Regions from separate parts of the Homo sapiens genome. Here all the other regions are linked to region 1. Evidence: fine-mapped expression QTL. A gene starts in region 1. Each other region holds a variant in brackets. All regions are shown on one strand. Distances are between the middles of the regions. Region 1 holds the start of GLO1 (glyoxalase I). Region 2 overlaps BTBD9 (BTB domain containing 9). Region 3 overlaps DNAH8 (dynein axonemal heavy chain 8).

The links. PIP is the estimated chance that this variant, and not a neighbour inherited with it, causes the effect. A credible set is the group of variants that fine-mapping cannot tell apart.
Region 2: its variant is the best candidate, but not a certain one, in a credible set for the expression of GLO1 in whole blood (INTERVAL, PIP 0.61).
Region 3: its variant is the best candidate, but not a certain one, in a credible set for the expression of GLO1 in nasal epithelium (TOPMed, PIP 0.89).

What each region holds. Positions count from the first base shown.
Region 1 is chr6:38,701,278-38,705,629 of GRCh38, reverse strand. It overlaps GLO1 (glyoxalase I), which reads left to right and starts at 2,485. Exons shown (of 6, transcript NM_006708.3): 1 at 2,485-2,659. The coding sequence starts at 2,576. RefSeq lists enhancers at 2,209-2,368, 2,549-2,648, 2,669-2,718, 2,751-3,343.
Region 2 is chr6:38,613,683-38,618,034 of GRCh38, reverse strand. All of the region lies in intron 1 of BTBD9 (BTB domain containing 9), which reads left to right. Among named protein-coding and RNA genes, the nearest start is that of BTBD9, 24 kb to the left of the region's middle. The variant C/A (reference allele first, on the strand shown) is at 1,977.
Region 3 is chr6:38,757,275-38,761,274 of GRCh38, reverse strand. The region is part of intron 10 of DNAH8 (dynein axonemal heavy chain 8); the gene reads right to left. Among named protein-coding and RNA genes, the nearest start is that of DNAH8, 44 kb to the right of the region's middle. The variant A/T (reference allele first, on the strand shown) is at 2,292.

The sequences.
Region 1 (4,352 bases):
GATGCTGTCTCTACAAAAACTAAAATAAAATAAATTATCTGGTTTTGGTGGTGCATGCCTATAGTCTTAGCTATTTGTGAGGCTGAGGTGGGTGGGTGGGTGGATTGCTGGAGCCTGAGAGGTTGAGGCTGCAGTGAGCTGAGACAGCACCACTGCACTCCACACTGGGCAACAGAGTGAGACCCTATCTTGAAAGAAAGAAAGAAGAAAGAAAAGAAAGAAAGAAGAAAGAAAGAAAGAAATAAAGAAAGAAACAAATAAAGAAAGAAGAAAGAAAGAAAGAAAGAAAGAAAGAAAGAAAGAAAGAAAGAAAGAAAGAAAGAAAGAAAGGACTCTGTTGGGATTTTTATTGGAATTTCATTACATGAACAGATTAATTAGTAAATGAATTGATATTTTATGATATTGAGTCTTCCTATTCATTTACATGCTTTATATCTCACATAGTCTGAGAAGCTCACCAGAAAGATTAGTGCAAAAGGGCTGGGAACAGTGGCTCATGCCTGTAATCCCAGCACTTTGGGAGGCCGAGGTGGGCGGATCACCTGAGGTCAGGAGTTTGAGACCAGCCTGGCCAACATGGTGAAACCGTGTCTCTACTAAAAATACAAAAATTAGCCAGCATGGTGGCAGGTGCCTGTAATCCCAGCTACTTGGGAGGCTCAGGCAGGAGAATCGCTTGAACCCAGGAGGTGGAGGTTGCAGTGAGCCAAGATCACACCACTGCATTCCAGCCTGGGCGACAGAGGAAGACTCCATCTAAAAAAGAAAATTAATGCAAAAGAAGACAATTTGGGGGTCTTTTCAATAATTCAGTGGTAACACACAGTATATGGAGAGTTTGTGTATTGCTCCAATTCCCGAGTTTAAAAGGTTTAAGGTCTAGTTCCATATAGAAGTCCTGCAGTTCTAATAGACTGTGTTTTGATGAAATATCCTCAGTAAGTTAGTATGAGGTATGCACAACATTTCTGCTGAAATCCTTATCCTGCCTATCATTTTGCAGTGGACATCCATGGTTCAGTTTGCCTGGCAATCCTCCCTTCTCATAAGAACATCATCGCTCTTCTTTTAGGGAACTAACAGATCCTCCCCAAACTCCAATCAGGTGGTCCTAATCCAGGTTGCCAATCGCAGTGCTTCAATCACAGGAGTAAGCACAGGTCCTAGGCCAGGCCAATCACAGCTCCTTCTTGGATTTTCCAATTTGATAAAATCCAGGCTGGCTGGATAAAATCCAGAGGGAGAGTTTACTCCCACTCCTAGTGAGAGAACAGCTGCCAAATTTCTAGTCTTATGGAGCTGGTGTCTGACAAACTGAAGCTGCGATGCAGAAAAAAGCTGAGATGAGAGACGGGGACATCTTGGTGGTGGCCAGGTGGCTAGTGCCATATACATCCCTGCCCAACCTCATTTTGGTTAGGTGAGCACCAGTCATTCCCATTTATTCTTTTAACAACAGGAAGTATTTAATGAGCATCTACTATTATGAGCCAATCATTGAAGACACAGTGATGACTAAGCCTTCCAGTGAACACAAAATATATATTAATGTAAAAAGTACTGCAAGTTATGGACATTTGGAACCTAAGTAGGCAAACCATGACTTAAATCTCATTTAGGCTGGGCACAGTGGCTACACCTGTAATCCCAGCACTTTGGGAGGCTGAGGCGGGAGGGTCACTTCAGCCCAGGAGTTGAGACCAGCCTGGGCAACATGGTGAAACCCCCATCTCAAAAAAATACAAAAATTAACTGGTCTTGGTTTTGCAGCCTGTAGTCTCAGCTAATCGGGAGGCTGAGGCCAGAGGACAGCTAGAGCCCCGGAAGTCGAGGCAGCAGTGACTGCAGTAAGCTGAGAGCACACCACTGCACTCCAGCCTGGGCGACAGAGCGAGACACTGTTAAAAAAATTAAAAAAAAAAAAAAAAGAAAGAAAGAAAGAAAAGAAAAAAGAAAAAGGAAAAGAAAACTTATTTAATTCTCAACAAATCCTGTTAGGAAGCTCAGAGAGGGTCAGTAATTATTGCAAGTTTCTAGCGCTAATATATAGCGGAACCAAGACTTGAACATAGGTTTTCGACTCAACAATTGTTTTAATTACTCTGCGCTGCGTAAACTGAGAAACCTCTGAATCCTTACAATTTTAAAAGAACAACTTACAGTTTTCAGTTTCCATCAGATTCCAATTTTCTACCAAATTGCAGCCCTGAGGTATGAATGGTTACCAAACTTTAGTTAAACAAACAAAATTAGCTCATTAAGTAACAGAGAAACCACTCTGCCCAGCCTGCATTTTTTTTTTTTTTTTTGTATGAGTTTGCCTCCTTTATGCGCAAGGCTCCTTGGGAGTTGTAGTCTGAGGCATAGTCCTGTGGGTGGAGGCGCTGACTCACTGGGACCCAATCAGCAGAGAGTCAACTTGCTCTCCGCGCAGCGATTGGCTGGAAGTCAGCGGTCTCCCGCCCGCGGCGCCATCGCGCCATTCCTAGTTAAGGCGGCACAGGGCCGAGGCGTAGTGTGGGTGACTCCTCCGTTCCTTGGGTCCCGTCGTCTGTGATACTGCAGCGCAGCCATGGCAGAACCGCAGCCCCCGTCCGGCGGCCTCACGGACGAGGCCGCCCTCAGTTGCTGCTCCGACGCGGACCCCAGTACCAAGGTGGGCACAGGACCGAAGGGAACGGCTCCCCCAGCTCCGCTGGGCCGGGACCGGGCCGCATTCTATCCAACCCCATCCCGCCGCCGCTGCAGGTCCGCCGGCCTCGGGCGGACGGGAGTGTGATGGGAAGAGGGATAATGGTGTTTGATGGGGCGATCGTGGGGCCCGCGAAGTGTGGAGGGGATCTGTTGCCTCAGCTAGTTTCAAAGACTGCGACCCTGTTTTGAATTGGCTTGTTTATGTTGCGACGGTGGCTGGAAGCCAGGCCAACCCAGGGTCAGCTTTCCCAAATCAGTCGCCAAGGCCCACGAGAACAGTAGTTTCAGAACTCCCAGAAATAGGTTCAAAGATGCCTGTCCTGTACCAGTCCTGCCCAGCCTCGTTTTTCCTTACCACCCTGACTGCAGTCTTAACTCCTGCAAACTAATTTGATCGCTCTAAGTTTAACCGCGCCCAGAATTTCACTTTTGCTTGCTTGGCCTTTGCTGTGGGTCACAACAGCCCTTCTTGCCTTCCTCATCTTCGTGGGGCCCAGGAGAGATTACAGAATCATAGAGTTTGGATCTGAAAGGAATCTTAGAAATTCCTTCTCTTACCCTCTCGTTTTACAGTAATGACCCAGTAAGAGAAATGACCTGTTGCATACAAAGGCTTTCACTTACCGAACATGTCTTTACTGGGTAAGAATCAGTGTAACTCACTCAGGTGTGGTGTTTCGGTTGCCTTGTTAAGATCAGACACAGTTGGCGGGCGCGGTGGCTCACGCCTGTAATCCCAGCACTTTGGGAGGCCAAGGCGGGCGGATCACGAGGTCAAGAGGTAGAGACCATCCTAACACGGTGAAACCCCGTCTCTACTAAAAATACAAAAAAATGAGCTGGGCGTGGTGGCGGGTGCCTGTAGTCCCAGCTACTCGGGAGGCTGAGGCAGGAGAATGGCATGAACCCGGGAGGCGGAGCTTGCAGTGAGCTGAGATCGTGCCACTGCACTCCAGCCTGGGCGACAGAGTGAGACTCTGTCTAAAAAAAAAAAAAAAAAAAAATTCAGGCACAGTAACCGCTGTTTATTCCAGTGAAGTCATCAGTGTCTGTAAACACCTTTGTATTTATTTATTTGACTACATCATTTGTAAATTCCTTGAAGATTGAATATGTGCTTCGTGCAGACCTTTAAAAGGGGTAGATAAGTGGTCCATGACTCTGGTCCCTGCTTGTTCTTTACCTTCAGGGCAAAGAGTCAGACACATCTCATTGCTAAAACTTTTGACTAGCACCTGGTACTTGGCTTAGGAAAAATGTTAGTCATTGCAAAATTAAGGGGGAAGGTAAAAAAATTCCGTCATGCCCATCTCACTTGTATATCCCTTAATATTAATACCTGGTTTTTTCATATAATGTAAATTGAGTCACTCAGTGTAAAGTATTTTCCCAGATAACTAGGGGTTTTATGTAATGGGGTTTTCAAATAAAAAGGATTCCAGGGATATCTTTATAAAATATACTAAGTAAATGTCCTTGCAGCTTAATTTACATTCCACAGTATCTAAATTTCTCTTGATGATTCGGAGTAATTAATTTTGAGATCAGTAATTTTTGGCCATGGGAGACATAAAATGGAATACATAATAATAGCTGGTATATATTGAGTGTGCCAGGCCCTGGCTTGGTATTTTAAGTACATTGTTTAATTTAAT
Region 2 (4,352 bases), 88 kb after region 1:
AGCAGTGGAAATACTTGTTTTCCTCCTAGACCACAAAGAGGACCGAGGAAGGTCAGATTTAGTGGCTCTTAACCACCACATTCTCAAAAACCTGCACCCTTGCCTTTCCTCTTAGACCACAAAGAGGACCGAGAAAGGTTGGATTTAGTAGCCCTTACGGATGCATTCTCAAAAACCTGTTAGTTAGAGTCCTAAGTGTTTTCTCCTGTTGGTGCTGGGACCTTACCCTTGTCCTATGAAGATGATATGCCTCAAAATGGAGTGGAGGGCCATACACTGAGGGAGGGAAGGGATTTCCAGCATTGGAACAGTGACGTCTTTTGTCCTCACTTCTCATCATTTGAATAGGAAGGACATCCCCCCAATTTTGGAGTCTGTAATTTCTGAGGCTCTCCATATCCTGGCTTTGGGAATGGCCTTTGTTAGGCCTGCTAGTCTGAGGAGGCATCCTAAAATTCCAGATAGTACCCCCTATGACGGGGCTTTGGGCAAAAATTATGTCTTTCTGATTGGTAAGCCTGGGTGCCTAAAGAAGGGAACAGAGTCCTGAAATTTATGTTACAAATTATCCTTATAGGAGAAACTAGAAGAGCATCGGGGACAGGGAGTGGTTTTGAGAAGCAGGACTAGCCTTGGAGAAGAGAGGTGGGAGGAACTTCTCTGAGAGGCATTGGGACCCAGGAGGCAAGGGTCAGGATAGATAGAATAGATGGGCAAGTCTCGCTTGGGTGATGTAACCTTGAGAGTTCTGCTCATGGCTGCAGGGTCAACCAACTTTTTGGAGCCGAATGGCTTTCCTCTCTGTTGACCCTCGGCTCAGCCCGGAAGTGCAGGAAAAGCAGAAGCTGGTTCCAGGCAAAGCAACGCTCCCGACTCCGAAGAGGCAAGGGTTGTTAGAGAGCCCTTTCCTAGAAAGCCTGACACCCGTGTCTTTAGTCCGGTGGCCGCACTAGTCACTTTTAACTGGCTGACAGGTGCCCAGTGTTTAGCCCCTGAATTCTAAGGAAAAATAGGACAGAATAGCAAGCGAAAGGGGTCCGATAGTACTCACCGCATAGCGATATCCTGGACAAGTCCCCAAGATGTGTCCGGAGTTTGTTCCTGCTGGTGGGTTCCTGGTCTCACTGACTTCAATAATGAAGCTGCGGACCTTTGTGGTGTTACAGCTCTTAAAGATGGCACAGACCCAAAGAATGAGCGGTAGCAAGGTTTATTGTGAAGAGCAAAAGGACAAAGCTTCCACAGCGTGGAAGGGGACCTGAGCGGGTTGCTGCTGCTGGCTGAGGTGGCCAGCTTTTATTCCTTTATTGTCCCCTCCCATGTTTCGTTTCTGTCCTATCAAAGCGCGCTCTTTTCAGTCCTCCCCGCGATTGGCTACTTTTAGAATCCTGCTGATTCGTGCATTTTACAGAGCACTGATTGGTGCAATTTACAATCCTCTTGTAAGACAGGAAAGTTCCCCAAGTCCCCATCCGACCCAGGAAGTCCAGCTGGCCTCACCTCCCACTCCCACCTCAACTTTCCGAGTAGCTGGGACTATTAGACATGTGCCTGGCTTGCTAATACATTAAAAAAAAGTGTTTAGTAGGTTATATATCTCTGAATTTTATTTCAGAATAGTAGGGCGTTGTAATAAAATATTTGTTATAAAAAGTAGGCGTTGGGTCTGATAGTATTGATGGCCATTATATAAGTAAAAGTCCAAGCATGGCACAACTGGCTTCTCTGCTCAGGGTCTTACTATGCTGAAATCAAAGTGTCAGCAGGGTTATAATCTCATCTGAGGCTCAGGGTCCTCTATTAAGCTCAGTGGTTGGTAGCAGAATTTGGTTCTTGTGATTATACCACTGAGATCCTCCTTTTCTTGCTGGCTGTTAGCTAGAGGTAGCTTTCAGTTCCTAGAGGCCACCCCCAAGTCCTAGCCAATGGGCCTCTCACAACATGGCAGCTTGCTTCTTCAAGGCTAGTTGGAGAAT[C/A]TCCCTCCAGTCAGCTACAAGACTCTTATATAAAGTTACTGGAGTAACTATCCCATCATATTTCCAGGTCCTGCCCACTCTCAAGGGGAGGGGATTATATGGGTGTGTGTATCTGGGAGCAGGGATCTTGGGTGCCATCTTACATTTCTGCCTACCACAGCCAACATTATCCCATCCTCATATGTGTAACTCTTCACTGTCAGTGAAGTGCAGTTATTTGAAAAAGGACCGCAATAATTACTTTAAGCATTCACACAGGTATTGAGTACCTCTATGCCAGGTACTTTTCTAGGCACTGAGGTGAATAGGGCAGAACCCATGCTCTCATGGAGGTTATCTTCTAGGGCTAAGAGCAGTGAAGAAAATCAAATGGAGTAGAAGGTTAGAAATGGTATGGGAGTGAAGGGGGTAGTAGGGTATGTAGGGTGGTTAGGAGCCAAGACCTGAATGGTGAGTGGCCAGTAGTATGAAGCTTTGGGAACAAAACATTCTGGTAGAGGGAAGGTAATGATAAGGATCCTAAGTCAGTAATAAGCTTTGACTGTGTTTAAGGAACAGTAAGGCCAGTGTGGCTGGAGCAGAATGTGCCAGGAGAGGAGTTGGAGATGAGTTTGGGGAGGTGGTTGGGTTGCAGAGCTGTAGATCTTGGTGGAGTATGATTTTTATTCAGCATGAGATAGGAAGGCACTGAAGTGTTTTAAGCAATGGAGTGACTGATCTGATTTATATTTTCAAAAGATTTATGTGGAGAAATGGCATGTAAGGGTGGAAATGTATAAATACAAAGAGATACAATTTGTGAAGGAAAAGAAAAGCCTTCTAAGTGCAGATGACAAGAGCGCTGGCTAGACCCAGGTCAAGGAAGGCTGCATGAGGAAATGGCACCTGAGTTGCACTTGGATGATGGAAGGTGAAAAGAAGAAGCATGGTCCCAACAAGGGATCAACTTATGCCAAAGCCCTGTGGCATAAGGGAGCATGTCAGTGCTAGGGAAAGTCAGGGGGAATGATTAGAGTTAGGCAGGGCCCAGATTCCACAGGCCTTGAAGGCCCAGTTAAACGTTTTTTTCTGTGCTTCTTTTACGATAAGAGCCGTGGAATACCACTGAAGGGTTTTAAATAGGGACAGGAGTTCTGGAGGGAAAGGATGAGGGAAATGGTTTATACTCAAGTTTTGTAATTTGAGAAATTCTTTCTGGCTCCTGCATGGAGGACAGTTTGGAGGAAGGTCTGAGTGGAAAGCGGGAGATCACTTAGGAACTATGTGAGGGTCCGAGTGAGAGATGAAGGTGGAGTGAACTAGAATGGTAGCATGGAAGTTGCAAAGAAGTAAATTGACTTGAAAGCTATCTTAGGAGGTAAAAACAAAAGACTTGCTGATGGATTAGGTTGAGGTCGAAGGCAGTGTCTTTCTGGCTTCCACAGCCGGATTCACTGAGCTAGGGAACATTGCATAAGGACAGGCTTTTACTAGGGAGGGGCATAGAGAGTGTGAATTGAGTTTTGAGGTATCTTTGAGAAAAGTAAGTGCAAATGTAAAGTGGGCAGTGGTAATATAGGGGTCTGGAATTTGGAAGAGAGGTCTGTTAATATCTGTATGGCCTCTTTTGTTAATTTTGGGGTCTTAAATATGCCAGTCACTGTAAGGTGCTGGGGATGTAAAGATGAGTAAGATGTTATTCAGCATTTGTTGAGTGCCTGTAGTCTCTGTGTTCTGGTTATTGTCCTCTGGGAGCTTACTAACCAACAAGACAGGTCCGTAACAAAATCATAGCAAGGTATGATAGGGGCGGTGATGGGGGAACAGAATCTGACAGAAGAGGTGACCTAGATTGGCAGCGTCAGTGAAGGCTTCTGCTGAAGGGCTTGAAGCTTGTTCTGAGCCTTGAAAGAGGCAGAATTAGCCAGACAAGGAGAATACAAGAAGTTCCAATAGTAAAAGGCTGGAGGTATGAGAGGAGAGACTTGACAACTCAGAAGAGCCAGCAGCTCCATATCCCTGGCTCTCACTAACTGGTGAACAAGGTGAATAAGCAGGAGGGCTCCTCACCAGCAAAGTCTGCTTAAGTTGGATGTTTTTATGGTGGTAAGCGTTCTGGTGAGACTTGACATAGCTGTTTGGAAGGAGAGGAAGAGAATACTCATAGCTGGAAGGGACTTCAGAGAACTTTTAGCCCTGTCTTCTCATTTACAAATGAGATTAACAAAAGCCAAAGAGGACAGCTGATTTGCTGATAGGAAAGTCAGGGCCCACATCTCCCAGAGTCCAGATTGAGGTTCCTTACATTGCTACAGGAATGTCAGTACCCCTTAACCATTTATTCCCAGGCTCCCTCTGACATTTTTATATTGAAACAAAATGTGCAGGAAATACACA
Region 3 (4,000 bases), 56 kb before region 1:
GTGGGGTGGGGGGAGGGGGGAGGGATAGCATTAGGAGATATACCTAATGCTAAATGACGAGTTAATGGGTGCAGCACACCAACATGGCACATGTATACATATGTAACAAACCTGCACATTGTGCACATGTACCCTAAAACTGAAAGTATAATAATAATAAAATTTAAAATAATAATAATAAATAAATAAAATACAATCCAAAAAAAAAATGAAGAGCAAATGAGTGAGCCAGAAAAGGGCAAAGATGGAAGAAAAAAATTAAGAGAAATGGAAGTTAGATGCAAGGGGAGAGAATAAATTGAATGGGTAGGTGTGTTAGTCCATTTACATTGCTATCAAGGAATACCTGAGAATGGGTAATTTATAGAGAAAAGAGGTTTATTTGGCTCACAGCTCTGTAGGCTGTACACGAAGCATAGCACCGGCATCTGCTTCTGATGACGACCCCAGGAAGCTTACAATCATGGTAGAAAGCAAAGTGGGAACTGGCCTCATATGAGAGCAAGCAAGAGAGAGATGCCAGGATCTTTTAAACAATCAGCTGTTGCATGAAGTCATTACCACAAGGAGGGCACCAAACCATTCATGAGGGATCCACCCCCATGGCCCAGACACTTCCTGCCAGGCCCCATCTCCAACACTGAGGATCACATTTCAACATGAGATTTGGAGGGGACAAATATCCAAACCATATCAGTGAGCTAGAAATAATCCCAGGCAAAAGAGGACTGTTTCTCAGGAATAAAGAGAAAGGAAAGTCTTTGGATTGAGACAACTCAGCAAGTGTAGAACAAGATAAATGTAAAAAAAAAAAGTTTGAGATTTTAGAAATTCAAAGATAAAGAAAAAAAATCCTAAAAGCTTCCTGGGAGAATAAAACTAGTTACCTACAAAGGAAACAAGAATCATATTAGCACCAAGCTTCTCCTCAACAATACTGAATACTAGACAATGATTGAGCAATATCTTCAACTTCCCAGGAGACAATGATGTCGAATTTAAAATCCAAGTCACACTAGCATTTGAGTGATCAGACAAAATGAAAGTGATTTTCAGACATGTAGAAATCCAGGAAGTTCACCACCCTGAAACCTCTCTGAAAGAATTTTTTCAGCAAAAGAAATAATGAATCCAAGAAGGAAAAAGATGTGGGAATCACAAAACAGTGGTGATAAATAAATTAGCAATACTTGGATTTTAGTCTGAATACTTGTTGATTCACAATGTTGAAAAAAATGTTAAGAATAATATGGAACTGTTAAAAAATTATTCAGTGATACTTGCAAAGCAAGAGACTTTATTCAGGACCATTGTGATAGGTATAGGGACCACTGCAATGGGATCTTGTAGCAGGAAAGAGAGATTGGGCTCAACTCTGAACACAGCATGGGCAAGCAGGAATGTATAGCCAAGGGGCAGGATGGGAGTCAGTGGGTGGAAAATTATTAAGAGGAAACATCAGAGGTAAGGGGGATTTTGGTTAAACTGACCTAACAGGATTCTTGCTGAAGACAGGCCAAAGTGATCAGACAACACCTGGGGGGTTGGGGGGAATGAAAACCTGATCAGATATCTAGAGTCATCAGATATCAAGAATGGGGGGTTCTTGCTAAACTGACTTAGCAGGGTTCTTTGCTCAAACTAGATTTCACTAGAAAGTGCAAAGGTGGGCCTACCAGAAGATTCAGAAGCCAAGCAAAGAATCATTGTCAGAACTAAAAATGATCTCAATGTGGGACATATATGGCAAGAATGAGAGAGACAGGTAAAGAGGAAGGATTCTGAGAGTCTTGTCGTATTTAGGACATAGTGATTAAGCCTATACTTTGCTTTTTAAAAAAACTTAAAATGTGACTATGACTTTATATATTTCGTTATGCTTGAATAATTTACAAATAAATTCTATTCATGTGGGTTTTTTCGTTGGTGGTGGTTTGTTTGTTTGTTTGTTTGTTTGTTTGTTTTTTGAGACAGGGTCTTTCTCTCTTGCCTAGGCTGGAGTGCCATGGTGTTATCACAGCTTACTGCATTCTTGAACTCCCAGGCTCAAGGGATCCTCCTGCCTCAGCCTCTGGAATAGCTAGGACTACAGGCACACACCACCATGCCCAGCTAACTTAAAAAAATTTTTTTTTGTAGAGCCAAGGTCTCTCTATGTTGCCCAGGTTGGTCTCAAACTCGTGAGCTCCAGCGATCCTCCCACCTCAGCCTCCCAAAGCGCTGGGATTACAGCCTGAACCACCATGCCTGGTCTCATGTGTTGCTTGAGTAATTTCTCAAATTATTTTAAA[A/T]AAGACCAATATCCCTGATGAACATGGATGCAAAAATCCTCAATAAAATACTGGCAAACCGAATCCAGCAGCACATCAAAAAGCTTATCCACCATGATCAAGTGGGCTTCATCCCTGGGATGCAAGGCTGGTTCAACGTACACAAATCAATAAACATAATCCAGCATATAAACAGAACCAAAGACAAAAACCACATGATTATCTCAACAGATGCAGATAAGGCCTTTGACAAAATTCAACAACCCTTCATGATAAAAACTCTCAATAAATTAGGTATTGATGGGATGTATCTCAAAATAATAAGAGCTATTTATGACAAACCCACAGCCAATATCATACTGAATAGACAAAAACTGGAAGCATTCCCTTTGAAAACTGGCACAAGACAGGGATGCCCTCTCTCACCACTCCTATTCAACATAGTGTTGGAAGTTCTGGCCAGGGCAATCGGGCAGGAGAAGGAAATAAAGGGCATTCAATTAGGAAAAGAGGAAGTCAAATTGTCCCTGTTTGCAGATGACATGATTGTATATCTAGAAAACCCCATCGTCTCAGCCCAAAATCTCCTTAAGCTGATAAGCAACTTCAGCAAAGTCTCAGGATACAAAATCAATGTGCAAAAATCACAAGCATTCTTATACACCAATAACAGACAAACAGAGAGCCAAATCATGAGTGAACTCCCATTCACAATTGCTTCAAAGAGAATAAAATACCTAGGAATCCAACTTACAAGGGATGTGAAGGACCTCTTCGAGGAGAACTACAAACCACTGCTCAAGGAAATAAAAGAAGATATAAACAAATGGAAGAACATTCCATGCTCATGGGTAGGAAGAATCAATATCGTGAAAATGGCCATACTGCCCAAGGTAATTTATAGATTCAGTGCCATCCCCATCAAGCTACCTATGACTTTCTTCATAGAATTGGAAAAAACTACTTTAAAGTTCATATGGCACCAAAAAAGAGCCCTGGCAAAAAATTGCCAAGTCAATCCTAAGCCAAAAGAACAAAGCTAGAGGCATCACGCTACCTGACTTCAAACTATACTACAAGGCTACAGTAACCAAAACAGCATGTACTGGCACCAAAACAGAGATATAGACCAATGGAACAGAACAGAGCCCTCAGAAATAATGCCGCATATCTACAACTATCTGATCTTTGACAAACCTGACAAAAACAAGAAATGGGGAAACGATTCCCTATTTAATAAATGGCACTGGGAAAACTGGCTAGCCATATGTAGAAAGCTGAAAATGGATCCCTTCCTTACACCTTATACAAAAATTAATTCAAGATGGATTAAAGACTTAAATGTTAGACCTAAAACCATAAAAACCCTAGAAGAAAACCTAGGCAATACCATTCAGAGCATAGGTATGGGCAAGGACTTCATGTCTAAAACACCAAAAGCAATGGCAACAGAAGCCAAAATTGACAAATGGGATCTAATTGAACTAAAGAGCTTCTGCACAGCAAAAGAAACTACCATCAGAGTGAACAGGCAACCTACAGAATGGGAGAAAATTTTTGCAATCTACTCATCTGACAAAGGGCTAATATCCAGAATCTACAATGAACTCAAACAAATTTACAAGAAAAAAACAAACAACCCCATCAAAAAGTGGGCAAAGGATATGAACAGACACTTCTCAAAAGAAGACATTTATGCAGCCAAAAGATACATGAAAAAATGCTCATCA